4 linked regions of the Homo sapiens genome follow. The protein of the gene in region 4 purifies or fractionates together with the protein of the main gene of each other region. This does not show direct contact. Each region holds a gene or a part of one and is shown on either strand. Other genes may lie near its edges.

Evidence for each region. The genes of interacting proteins can lie anywhere in the genome.
Region 1: the proteins of MND1 (region 4) and TOMM34 purify together in Homo sapiens (affinity purification with mass spectrometry; one large-scale study listed by BioGRID and IntAct). This does not show direct contact.
Region 2: the proteins of MND1 (region 4) and PPP1R12A purify together in Homo sapiens (affinity purification with mass spectrometry; one large-scale study listed by BioGRID and IntAct). This does not show direct contact.
Region 3: the proteins of MND1 (region 4) and NRBF2 purify together in Homo sapiens (co-immunoprecipitation; one large-scale study listed by IntAct). This does not show direct contact.

The regions. Positions count from the first base shown.
Region 1 is NC_000020.11:44,943,398-44,946,897, forward strand, and holds part of TOMM34 (mitochondrial import receptor subunit TOM34), read right to left. Parts: intron 183-3,500; coding exon 56-182; exon of another isoform or gene 55-55; intron 1-54. UniProt on the Homo sapiens protein: Plays a role in the import of cytosolically synthesized preproteins into mitochondria. Binds the mature portion of precursor proteins. Interacts with cellular components, and possesses weak ATPase activity.
Region 2 is NC_000012.12:79,928,598-79,932,097, forward strand, and holds part of PPP1R12A (protein phosphatase 1 regulatory subunit 12A), read right to left. Parts: intron 1-3,500. UniProt on the Homo sapiens protein: Key regulator of protein phosphatase 1C (PPP1C). Mediates binding to myosin. As part of the PPP1C complex, involved in dephosphorylation of PLK1. Capable of inhibiting HIF1AN-dependent suppression of HIF1A activity.
Region 3 is NC_000010.11:63,150,328-63,152,925, reverse strand, and holds part of NRBF2 (nuclear receptor-binding factor 2), read right to left. Parts: exon of another isoform or gene 2,570-2,598; intron 777-2,569; coding exon 736-776; intron 1-735. UniProt on the Homo sapiens protein: May modulate transcriptional activation by target nuclear receptors. Can act as transcriptional activator (in vitro). Involved in starvation-induced autophagy probably by its association with PI3K complex I (PI3KC3-C1).
Region 4 is NC_000004.12:153,347,688-153,351,187, reverse strand, and holds part of MND1 (meiotic nuclear division protein 1 homolog), read right to left. Parts: intron 1,125-3,500; coding exon 1,059-1,124; intron 1-1,058. UniProt on the Homo sapiens protein: Required for proper homologous chromosome pairing and efficient cross-over and intragenic recombination during meiosis.

The DNA of each region.
Region 1 (3,500 bases), on a different chromosome or scaffold from region 4:
CTGGCATAAATCTCTGTAGCTATGTTGGGACCTTTTGGCCAGGATTTTTTTTTACCTTGAGTGCTTTGTGGGCTTGAGCCCGTCTGTAGAATGCCTTCACGTTCTTTCCATCCAGCTTGAGGGCTTCTGTGCAGTCCTTCACTGCTTCTGTGTACTGCTTCAGGACCAAATAGCAGAGTGCTCTGAAGGGAAAGACCATTTCAGAGGTTTCAGTCACGTCTTATGGGCCACCCACATGCCACGCAGTAGTTTGAGAAGTGATCTCCAATTTGCTGAACACCTACTCTGTGCTGGTTACTTTATGTCTTCTTAAATCCTCACAACAATCCTAGCCCTTTTCATGGATGAAACATGCTGGCTCAGAAGGGTAAAGGAACTTGGGCCAGGTACCGCCAGTATTAAGGGGCAGACCCAGGATTCAAATAGGCGGGCGTTCGTTCATGGGACTCCAGATCCTGATCTCATCTAGTTCTATCATGCTGTACTGCGCTCTCCTATACTGAGCTCTTTCAAGCAAAGAAAAGGTTTCCTGAAACTTTTCCCTTGACAGATTAAAAAATTATCTACTTTAAGGGGGAAAAAAAAACCCAACAACTACTGAACTCTAATGATATAATGCTGACATGGGGTGAAATGTAAAGACGTTTGCAATTTACTTTTAAGTGCATCAAACACAATAATACAGACCAACAGATGGCTAAATAGTGATAAGGCAATGTAATAATACTAATTGTAGAATTTAGATGGTAGGTCTATGGGTGTTCAATGTACAAATCTTTCAACTTTCCTATATTTTGAACATTTTCATAATAAAATGTTGGAAAAAAGTTATGTGCATCCATACAATATATTCTGCATCTGTGGGTTCAAAAAAGTGCATGTGTGTATATATCTTCCTCATTCAGATCTAGTCCTTCTCTCCAAAGACAGTCACTAAAAACAAAACAGTCAGATGTCTGGGCGCTCATTACATAAGTTCATCTGTTCCACCTCACTGTTTTCAGTGGGTGCAGGGTATTCACTAAGTTGGATGTAGCATAATTTATTTTACCAATTTCCTATCAAGAGGTATTTTTCATTGTTTCCAGTTTGTAAATAAGTGATGCCATGATGAACATCCTTGTGCAAGGGACTGCTGTATCCAAAGATACATGCATTTTAAAACCTGACTGGCCAGGTGCAGTGGCTCATGCTTATAATCCCAGCACTTTGGGAGGCCAAGGTGGGAAGGTCACTTGAGCCCAGGAGTTTGAGACCAGCCTGGGCAACATAGGGAGACCCCATCTCTTAAACAAAACAAAACAAAAAAAGAAATAAAATCTGATTGTTACTGCCAAAATGCTTTCCAAAAAAGCTGAATAGTTATTGACAGAGCCTATTTTCCTACAACTGTACCAACTTTGGGTCTTAAATTTTCATGTATGCCAATATGGAATAAAACACTATCTCACTGCCTTAGCTGCTTAGTTGTGGGTAAAGCTGAACATCTTTAATAAGGGTTTTTAATCTTTTGAAATCAAACTTCTCTAACTTTTCCTTTAACGACTTCTGTAACATTTTTTTCCCTTCACATAAGAATACCTTCCCCACTGCAAGATAGTTAATCCATGTGTTCTTCTAGAACTTAATGGTTTCGCTTTTTACATTCCAAACTGTGATCCACTCAGAACTTACTTTAAAATAAGAAGCAAGGTAGGATTCAAGTTTAACTCTAACCTGGCCAACCCAACACCTCTTATTAAATAATCTCTCTTTGCCCCAGACTTTATTATACACCAGATTCTCTCATGTCGTTGTTCTCATTTTTTTCTGACTTATCATGAATTTAAAGAAGAAAATTCTACTAGTCCTTTGTGATTGCATGGAATTCATAAATTAACGGAGAGAAAAATCTTCTTGTAACAACTTAAAAGACAGGCACAAATTCTTTGGCAATCCTCCACTGAGAGGCGGAGGTGTATCTGCTCTCTCTCTTTGAATTCGGGCAGGCTCTGTGACTGCTCTGACCAACAGAGGACAGAGGAAGGGACACGATGTGACTTCCAAGGTTAGGTCATAATAGGCCTTGCAGCTTCCACCTTGGTCTCTGGAAACACTCGCTCTTGGAGCCTTGAACTGACAGGGAAGAAGCCAACTACTCTGAGGCCACCACGCTCTCAGGAAGCTCACAGCAGCACACATGAAAAGGCTGCTAAGAAAGTGGAAAGAGGTGCCAGCTTGCTCTAGCAGTTCCATCACCCAGCCATTTGAGTCAGGCAGCCCAGCTGCCAGACATTCGAGGAAGAAGGCTTTAGAGGATTCCAGCCCCAGCTACCATCTTGCTGACCCTGCATGAGAGACCCCAAATGAGAACTGCCCTTCCCTAATTCCTGACTCCACAAATTACAAGCAAAATAAAATGGTTGTTGTAAATCACCAAGTTTTAGAATAGTAGCCCGTTTTAAACTTTGAACACAGAAGAATTCCTTTTTTTTTTTGGAGACAGGGTCTCACTCTGTCACCCAGGCTGGAGTGCAGTGGCATGATAACAGCTCACTGCAACCTCCGCCTCCTGGGTTCAAGCGATTCTCCTACTTCAGCCTCCCGAGTAGCTGGGATTACAGGTGCATGCCACCATGCCCAGCTAACTTTTGTATTTTTTGGTAGAGATGGGGTTTCACCATGTTGGCCAGCCTGGTCTCAAACTCCTAACCTCAAGCAATCTGCCCACCTCAGCCTCCCAAAGTGCTGGGATTACAGGCATGAGCCACCTCTAAACATAGAGGAATTCTAAGGAAATTAAAGTTTCCTCCCAATGGGCTTGGCAATTTAAAGAAATAGCCAAGTGTCTGGGAAGCAGAGGAACCACCGTGTATCGTGACTTCAGAATAGAAATGTGATTAATAGGGTCATGTGAGACTTCTAAAGACTATATTTAAGATGAACAAAATGCATAACTTCAGGCAATAAAATAAACCCCCTTGACTTTTGGTAAATGAAGTAACTGTATCCAGTCAGAAGGGTTTTAATTACAAAGGGGTTGGGAAATAACACAAGTGAGTGAAAGGGAAATAAGCTTTGGAGTCACAAAGATCTGGCTTAAATCTCAGCCACCATGTACTAGTTGTTTAACTTTGTGGTCACTAATTCATCTTTCTGAGCCTGATTAGGTAACACAGGACAATGATCTAAGCTGAAGAACTGTTGTGAGTACAAGTGAGATTCTTATGACAGCTGTTTCAGGGCTGGCAAGTTGTAGGTGCTATGCACTCAGATGTCACCTGCACAAAGGGAGCCAAAGTAAGCCAAAGCCTGGGCATTGTGTCATTCAGATGGGCGTACATGAGGTGGAGCATTAGACTATGTCCAAGACGTTCCAGGACATGATAAAATGTTAGCCACAATGGCTGAAAGTTGTTTTGTCATTAGTCCTCTAGATTAAATTATAAATCCAATGCAATCACAACCAAAAGCTGTCCAACAAGACATTTTTTGGAATTTGCCAAAATGATCCGAAGCTT
Region 2 (3,500 bases), on a different chromosome or scaffold from region 4:
TAATGCTCTTTAAAAGTTATCCAGTAGGTTCTTCCAAGATCTTAACATTCTCCATCAAAAAAAGGGTAAACAGTTACAAACTATAAACTCTTAATTCAGATTTTACATAGTAATCAAACTATTTGCTAACAAGCAACTCAAAATTAATTGCTTCCAGTCTCTTTTACACTTCACATCTTAAGAAGACTACACAAAAGTATTCCCTTTACTGACGAGAGGATCACATATTTTACAAAGATGCTTAAAATGGCTCCCTTAGAAGTAGATCAAATTTGTATTTTAAAAGCAAAAGGATTTCATATTAAACCTATCTGTAAGTCTGTCTGTTTTGGAAAGTAAAAGAAAAACTATTTTAAAATTCTAATAGCATAGAACATGGAACTAATTCTACTTTGTATTCCTCTAGAAGTGGTACCCAACCTTGGCATCAGGAACTAGTTTTGTGAATGACAATTTTTCCACAGATGTGGGTTGGGGAGTGGGGCCGGATGAAACTGTTCTACCTCACATCATCATCAGGAATTAGATGCTCATAAAGAGCACACAACCTAGATACCTCAGAAGCGCAGTTCACAATAGGGTCCGCACTCCTATGGGAATCTAATGCCGCTGCTGATCTGACAAGAGGTGGATTTCAGGCAGTAATGCTAGCTTGCCAGTGTGTCGCTCACCTCCTGCTGTGTGGCCTTGTTCCTCACAGGTCGTGGATCGACCTGTCCACGGCCCAGCGTTTGTGAACCCCCGCTCTAGAGGATCTAGCTCAGACTCTTACAAAGTGAGTAATTAATTAGTGACTCAACTGGATATAATATTTTTCTACCACTTAACCAATATCTAGACTGCTTTAAAATTTAATAGAAAGGAGGTCGATATTAAGAATTTTTTAGGCCGGCCACAGTGGCTCACACCTGTAATCCTAGCACTTTGGGAGGCCAAGACGGGCGGATCACTTGAGGTCAGGAGTTCGAAATGAGCCTGGCCAACATGGTGAAACCCCATCTCTACCAAAAATACAAAAAAAATTAGCCAGGCATGGTGCCACGCACCCGTAATCCCAGCTACTTGGGAGGCTGTGGCAGGAGAATCACTTGAACCTGGGCGGCGGAGTTTGCAGTAAGCCAAGATTACACCACTGCACTCCAGCCTGGGTGACAGAATGAGACTCCATCTCAAAAAAAAAAAAAGATTTTTTTAAAATCTCAAGATATTAAAATATATTGAAATCTACAACAAAGTTTTTAATTTGTTTCATAATCACACAAATTCCATTATGTGCAAGAACAATACGCTAAGTATCTGATGCGAAGGTTTCAAAAATATATCTCACAACATAAAAATAACTCTAAAACTTCCTATTGATGAGGTAAAAAGATAAAAATTCAATAAACCTTTAGTGAGCATCTACTATGTGCTAGGCTCTGGAAATACAAAAATTGTGGAAGATTAGGTCCTCAGAGGCTACAAGGGAAGACAAACACAAACACTATTCAGTAAAAAGTGTTTTTATTGCAGGAGAGGCAGAATATAAGGTACAGTGAACACCCCAGAAAAGAGAATGTGAATCTTGAACAATGACTAGAATTTTAATTGGCAAACGAGGGAGAGAGGATAAAAGGCATGGCTAAAGGCATGGAAATAAAAAATGTAAAGATCTAGTTGAAACGTAAGCAAGTTAACCAATTTCTATAAAGGATACAACACAATGGAGATGTATCAACCATAAGCTAAATGATAAAATGTACTATATCCAAATTTAGAGAGAGGAATAACACCATCAAAATGATACTGTTCAAAGATTAATATGACAGCAATATGCATGCTAGATTAAATAAGGGAGAGAATAGAGGCAGGAAAAACAATTAAGCTATTACTATACTCTAGGGATAAAAATAAGGCTAGGTGCGGTGGCTCACGCCTGTAATCCCAGCACTTTGGGAGGCCGAGGCAGGTGGATCACCTGAGGTCAGGAGTTCGAGACCAGTCTGATCAACATAGAGAAACCGCATCTCTACTAAAAATACAAAATTAGCTGGGCATGGTGGCACACGTCTGTAATCCCAGCTACTTGGGAAGCTGAGCCAGGAGAATCGCTCGAATCCGGGAGGTGGAGGTTTCAGTGAGCCAAGATAGCGCCATTGCACTCCAGCCTGGGCAACAAGAGCAAAACTCCATCTCAAAAAAATAAAATAAAATAAAATAATAAAGGTATGAACTAGGTTGCCAGTAAAAAGTGGCAAAGAAAAGAACTGATGCCAAGGTAATTGTAAAGAAAAGACTGAGCTAGAAGACAGACTGGATTATGCATAGACAAGGGGAATGAGTAAACAATAACTAAAATGTTTAACTTGATTCTAAAGATTAATACATCATTAACAGAAACAGGAACATCAATGAGAAGAGTAGACTTGATGAAGAAAGATAGACCTGTTTTAGGTTGAATTTAAAGAAATTCCTGACGATGTAAAATTGTCTTACCACCAAATTAATAATACTTTTAAAATAATTAGTTAAAAAGGATGCTGGTAAAGTCTAAAGATAAGTATCTCTAATGTTAACGGATAAACGTAAAATTATAATACTGAATTGCAACTATGAAAATCTATATTTGAACAATAAGAAATCCTTTGAAGAAATCACAAAGGTTAACGTGAATACAGTAGTTGCCATTCTATGGCAAAGGGGGTGAACTTGTATTTACTATATTACTACTTAAAAGACATTATTAAATATAAAATTACAATACATTTAATATTTCATTTCAAATCAATACATAACCCCAAAAAATGGAAATGAGGCTTGGAGCTTTGCAGAAATGAGGGAACTGTAAACTGACTTGGAAGTCACTGGCACAGAGGAAAAAGAAAAGATTTTAAGGCTAAAATCAACAGGCTAAACTCAAAACTGCTGGAGAAAAATCTCAGCCCTGTATTTTATGCACACCAGTATCAGTAAGAATCAGCAATAAGGCATTCTATATATAACTTTATTAATCTCCTTAAATCTTTACAAAATATGCTAAAATAGAGATATAATCACATACTGTAAAACTCTACCAGGTAGCTATAAAATCAGAAGCTGATTATTGCCCCATTGGTAATAATGAAATTCTACTCTAGACCTCGGTTCTAGAAAAACCAGAAATTTGTATCTATGGTTAACTTTGTGCTGTTTTGTAGCTTTGGGGGTCAGGTCCTGGGTAGAGTGGGTGGGGGAGAAAGGCTACTCTGGAGACTAAGATAGGAAATTTGACAAGAAACGCTGCTTTTTCTTCTATACAGAGGACACATTTCTATACAAAAAGAACAGCTGAAGACTGGATATCTTTTATAACTTCTAATGAGGTAGCACATTCAACAAATTAATAAACCTTTAAATATAAGCTCTTTAAAGTAAAAGCAAAATATTCGATTTTCAAAAGCATATTTGTGGGTTGTGATGTTCCTAAAACTTTTCTCTTGACAATGAAATTTAGAACACTTGATCAAAACCAGAAAGTAAAT
Region 3 (2,598 bases), on a different chromosome or scaffold from region 4:
CTCAGGTGTTCAGTGATCCTCTCACCTCAACCTCCCAAGTAGCTAGAACTACAGGCATGTGCCACCACGCCCAGCTAATTTTTTAAGTTTTTGTAGAGATGGGGTCTCACTGTGTTGCCAAGGCTGGTCTCGAACTCCTGGGCTCAAGTGATCCCCCTGCCTTGGCCTCCCAAAGTGCTGGGATTACAGGCATGGGCCACCATGCCCAGTCTTATGAATAAATGTATCTTGAAACACTTGGCAGGGCCTCCCCAAACACAGAAGACAATTTAAAGCAATTGGTGAAACAAATTTAAAAGTGCCTGAACTGCTTAAGAATTCAAGCAAAGACAAGTGGGAGACTGGTCAGATTTAAATTATCTTTGACAAGCAAAGGGTGGTCCAACTAGTTTCCTCTTGGCCAGGCCTGTTTACTGACTGTAAGCTAATGATCAAATAAGAGCTAATGATTAGGAATGGTCCGAAGAGGGCTCTCTAAAAGGTACATCTGGCTGGCAATCTGAGATCTGTGAGTAACCACTAGAAAAAAAGAAGTTTCTGCATTCCATGTCTGGGGCATCGACTGCAGTTCATTTAGTTTTAATTTCCGTTGTGAAGTGCTCTTCCCTTGCCCATTTTATATATTTTTGACTATAGCATTTTGAGAGGGACACAATGCTTTGCTTTACACACAATTCAAGCCTCCACAAGAAAACCTTTCTAACCCTTGTCGCAAATATTGGGAATATGTCTCACCTGCTCTGACTGTGTCAGCTTCATGGCTTCAGAAAGATATGCTGTTAAGAGAAAAAATAGGCATGTTAATATGTGTCTTCATTTTGTAATTAACAGGTAAAAGGAAGAGTTTTAATAATCTTCATATGACAAAGAGAACTGGTCTGATAACTCTGATACAATTGGGGATTTTTTAAAAGAATTCTTAACTTCCCCCAAAAGGATGTCAGTGGCAATAAAATGAAAATATTCCCTACCCTATCTTGAAGGTTTTGTTATTTAAAACTCCTACAGATTTTATAATTCAGAAACTGAAGATGGTCTAATCAGAAAAATAGGTTTAGGAAAGATAAAAATCAAACAAGAACCTATCCAAACCCTATTACTCATCATACTCACAAAAATATCATGAGATTATCAATGACTTTTTATCCGTCTGAATACCTGGAATCTATCATTTTGGACTCCTATAGAATCACTTTTAATGAATTGTCTCTGAGTTAAACCATCAGCCTTATGGTTAAAAGCCCTAAGAACTTGTTGACATATTTACTGCGAGGAAGTTACTGAGGACAGTATAATGTCATTTATGAAGACCTTCAATAAACTTCTCTCTGATCTTAGATCCTCGGTGACTATTTGTTTGAATTTTAATAGCCAATGTAAAAATTATTATCTTTCCTCTTTAGGATGACTGCTAGAAAACTTAAGTCAAGTTCTTAAAAAAATATGCAAGAACTAATGGTACATTTTGTGAACTACACTACTAGTCCTTTCTCATTTTCTCTATGGATGTCCTTATCTATGTATCTTTAATTACATTCGATATTTTATTGTACATTCATCTGTAAGACATTTTATAACCTTTCGGGAACAAGGTTAGGTATAAATAAGTTCTCTATTATCAATGAATTGTCCATAATGAATCTCCATTTTTATCTTGCTTGTTATAAACATTTTTGGCATCTCTCATACCTACATTAAGTTCCTCTTTTGCCCTTTTGCAGATACTACGAGGCATTGCTTTCTGTCCAGTCTTAATCCAAATAATTTAATGCTTTGATGTCATAACTTAAGAGTTCTTGCCTGCTAGGTTCTACCACAGTCTTTAAGATACAATTATATCAGGGGTCCCAAACCCCCAGGCCGGTACTGGTCTATGTCTTGTTAGGAACTGGGCCACACAGACAGCAGGAAGTGAGCAGCAGGCAAGCCAGTGAAGTTTCATCTGTATTTACAGCCACTCCCCATTGCTTGCATTACCGCCTGAGTTCTGCCTCCCATCAGATCAGCAGCGGCATTAGCTTCTCATAGCACAAACCCTACTGCAAACTGCACAAGCAAGGGATCTAGGTTGCACTCTCCTTATGATAATCTAATACCTGATGATCTGTCGCTGTCTCCCATCACCCCTAGATGAGACTGTCTAGCTGCAGGAAAACAAGCTCAGGGCTCCCACTGATTCTACATTATGTTGAGTTGTATAATTATTTATTTCTATTATTACATTGTAAAATATAAAGTGTACAATAAATGTAATGTGCTTGAATCATCCAAAAACCATTTTCCTGACCCCAGGTCTATGGAAAATTGACTTCCACAAAACCAGTCCCTGGCAGCAAAAAGGTTGGGACTGCTGAATTAGATGCTCCCTTTCCAAGAAAAAGAAGAGTTGGAGCCAGGCGCAGTGGCTAGCACTTTGGGAGGCCAAACAGGAGGACTGCCTGAGCCCAGGAGTTCAAGACTAGACTGGGTAACATAGCGGGACCCTGTATCAATTTAAAAAGAATTTAAAAAAAAAAAAGGAAAGAAAAAACAGAGTTGGTTATACAGTCTTTGCTCCAGCTATGCTTACCATAATTACATCCTTCCCACAACCCTTGT
Region 4 (3,500 bases):
TACTGTCTTGAAGGAATTAAACTTACTTTTCTTGCTGAGACCATAGGAAAAATATTTCAACTCAGCAGAAGAATTGCTATAATTTTCACATAGAGACTTCACCAATTTATCTTTGTAACCATATCATCATCATAATATGACACCCTGTTCTGAATTGCCAATGACTTTTAAGAACAATAAGATTATACTTAGTGGGCAAATCCCGTGTATTTTGTTTGTTTTTTTTTTTTTTTTTTACTAAGAATCTGCCTTAAAGTGAAAAGGGATTTTATCAATTTAATATTCAATTCTACCACTTTTCCCCATCTTCTTCACATTTGTATATGATGAAAATAGCCAGTAGACTGGGGCCAACTAGGCTTTGTAGGTCCTGCCAAGCCATATGAAGTCGGTGTTCTTTTAGGTCAAAGATTTATGTGGCCTTTAACCTGAAGACATAGAAAAGCCTTCCAGTAACAGTGTAAAGCCATGAGACAGTAGGCTGTAGAGCCAGGTACCTGGGTTTGAACTCTGGCTCTTCACTTAGGAGATGAAACTTTAAACATATTTCCTGTTGATGGCAGGCACAAATATCTGGAATAAATGAAGGCCTCTGTACCATCGACTGTGTGTTACACTATAGACAGACTTAAAATGCAAAGACATAGTATTTGGTACTCCCTCTGAAATCAAATGATCCTCCCTGGTTTGAATCCTGGAACTATGGCTTCTATTGTTTGAGATCCAAGACTGGTTGGCACCTAGGCAGCACTCAGGAGATGTGGGCTTTCATCATTATTATTTTTCAGGCAGAAAGAGGAGATAATCAAATATATGCATCAGAAGATTCTGGTGCCAGTATGCAGGACTGCTTGGGTGAAAGAGACTCTACCAACAGTGGGATATGGTTTTTCACACTCCATAACTCACAGGAACCACAAATATTTGCAGAATCTTACCCATTCTTCAAGAAATTGATCAGTATTGATGTTTAACAAAGAGGGGACAGTTAACATTGGATGACATATACTTAAGATGAAAATTACACAAAATTATAAGTGTTAAAGAAAATGACTTACTGTTTCAGAAAATATTTCCATCATGCGAGTTCTCTTTTCTTCTGCACTCAGTCCTTTTTTCTTTGACTAAAGCAAAAAAATTAACAAGTAAACAATGCTTTTAAACACATTTTGAAAACAACTGGATTTGCAACATTTGAAATTTTATGCATGGTCTTATCTGATGCCAACAGGTTTGATACTCTCAAAGTCAGACCTAAAGACTCATTTTAATTACTATCTGCCAACCACTGTGGTAGGTGCTGCCAAGATGGTAACTGTAAATTGAGGCAGAGCCTGGCATTTTGTAGAAATTCAGCATTTATAAAGTAAACCAATGATAAGCCACTGTATTGACCTTCCAAAGGCTTACAATCTCTCAGAGAAAATATATAGATGCAACTATTTATAGCTAATGAACAGCTACATGCACCAATTGTTACATAAATACCCAGAACACAATGAATTCCACTATGCAGAGGAAGAAGGGTTACCTAAGGACAGAGATTAAAAGGATTTTGGCAAATTGAGAAATGGTTAGAAGCACATCTTGGGGAGACCACACACAGGCACAATGTTATGGAAGTACATGGAATTCCCCAGAAGGATAAGCAGTGGGGGACAGTTATTGTATGAAGTATGTAGGGGGATTGGCAGATGGGATGAGAAAGGTGTGGGGTCAGGTTATGGAAAGCTGACTGTCCAGCTGACAGTGGACTTCATTCTAGACAATGAGGAGCTGCTGAGTAATTTCTAAAGCAGACTAGTGACAAGATTAGAGTTGCATTTTCGTTAAGTTAATTATAGCAGCAATGTGGAAGAGAAGATGGAAGGGGGAAAGGCCTATCCAAGTAGAAAATGGAAGCCCACTCAGGTTATTCTTCTGTAATACCCTTTAGCCAACTTGAAATTAAGACAATATGTAGCTGAAATATATGTTAATAATAAATTTTACAATATATTGTACATAGAATATATAAAGCTAAATCCTAAGTTAAAAGAGAAAGGAGCCAAATTTCCTCCAAACCAAAGGTTTACAGAAAAAAAAAAAAAAAAGAGTGAGAACTATCACCTCCAGTTCTCTAATAAAAAAACTCCACACTAATATTTCTTATGTGATCTGCATCTTTCTCAAAAATTGTAGGGGATTATAAAGGAATATAAATTGTTTGCTTAAAAAGCAGACATAAAACAACAGTTAAAGACTGCCCCATCCAACCAAAAACATCATCAGAAAACGTGAGTTTACATAAGTGAAGACAAGGATTTGGAATTGCCATTCTGGCTACATACTGGAGTGAGTGAGTCTTAATTCTTGTAAAACCTAGAAACCCACTAACTTGGCTGGGCGGTGGCTCACACCTGTAATCCCAGCACTTTGGGAGGCTGAGGCTGGAGGATCACTTGAGGCTGGGAGTTTGAGACCAGCCTGGGCAACAAAGCAAGACACTGTCTCAAAACAAAACAAAACAAAGCCCACACACACAAAAAAAAACAACAACCCACTAACTCATTCCCACAGGAATAAAATGATCAGGTGTTTCTTGATGAGTAATATGGGTAAATAAATAGCTTAAAGTTTATATTTTTCTCTTCTTCCTCGGTCCACTTTCAAACACTGTTTTTCTGCTGGGTTTGGCTACTGATCCCATCTCCTAATATCTTATCTTTGATCTCATTTGCTTTCATGGTTTTAATTAACACTTATGCTGAGACCTCAAATCTTTACATTCACCCCTGGGTGTGCTCCTGAGCTTCAGTGTCATGCATCTACCCGCCTGCTGGACAAACTTCAACTCCGTCAGTCTAAACTGAACTCTTCCTCTCTCATACCTACTCCCCACAAACTTGCTGTTCTAGACCTTGAGTCTCAGATACTATCTCGTGACCCAAGCCAGAGGCCTGACAGTCATCCTAGGTACCTTCACCTCCTTATCTCACATCCAACCAATCACCAAGTTCTGCCAGTTTCAGCATTTAATTATTTCTCTTATCTGTCCTGTCTGTTCTATCTCTACTACCACTGCCTCATTCAGGCCTTCATCATCTATCTCCTGCAATATACCTCCAGTCCCCTAACCACACTTTGACTCACCCTCTATGTTCACATTCCGCACTGGGAAAACATAAATAAGACCTTTTTCCCTGCCTTGCTCAAAACCCTCCAGTGGCTCCCAGACATCCAGACGTTTCTGAGTACCCCAGTATGATATACAAGGCCCTTTATCACCTAACCCCAACCTACCTTTTATAGCCTCTTCCACCACACCCCACCTCAAACTTTGCCATTAACAGTATGGAGACCTAAGCAACTTGTAATACAAAAACTGCCTGTAATTATCTACTCGAAGAATGCTCTCATTTCCATCCTTAAAAAAAATGTTCCTCCACCTAGAACATCCTCACTTCTTGCCTAGTCAAAACTCCAAAACATCTCCCAAGGCTTAGTTTAGGCACTCTCCC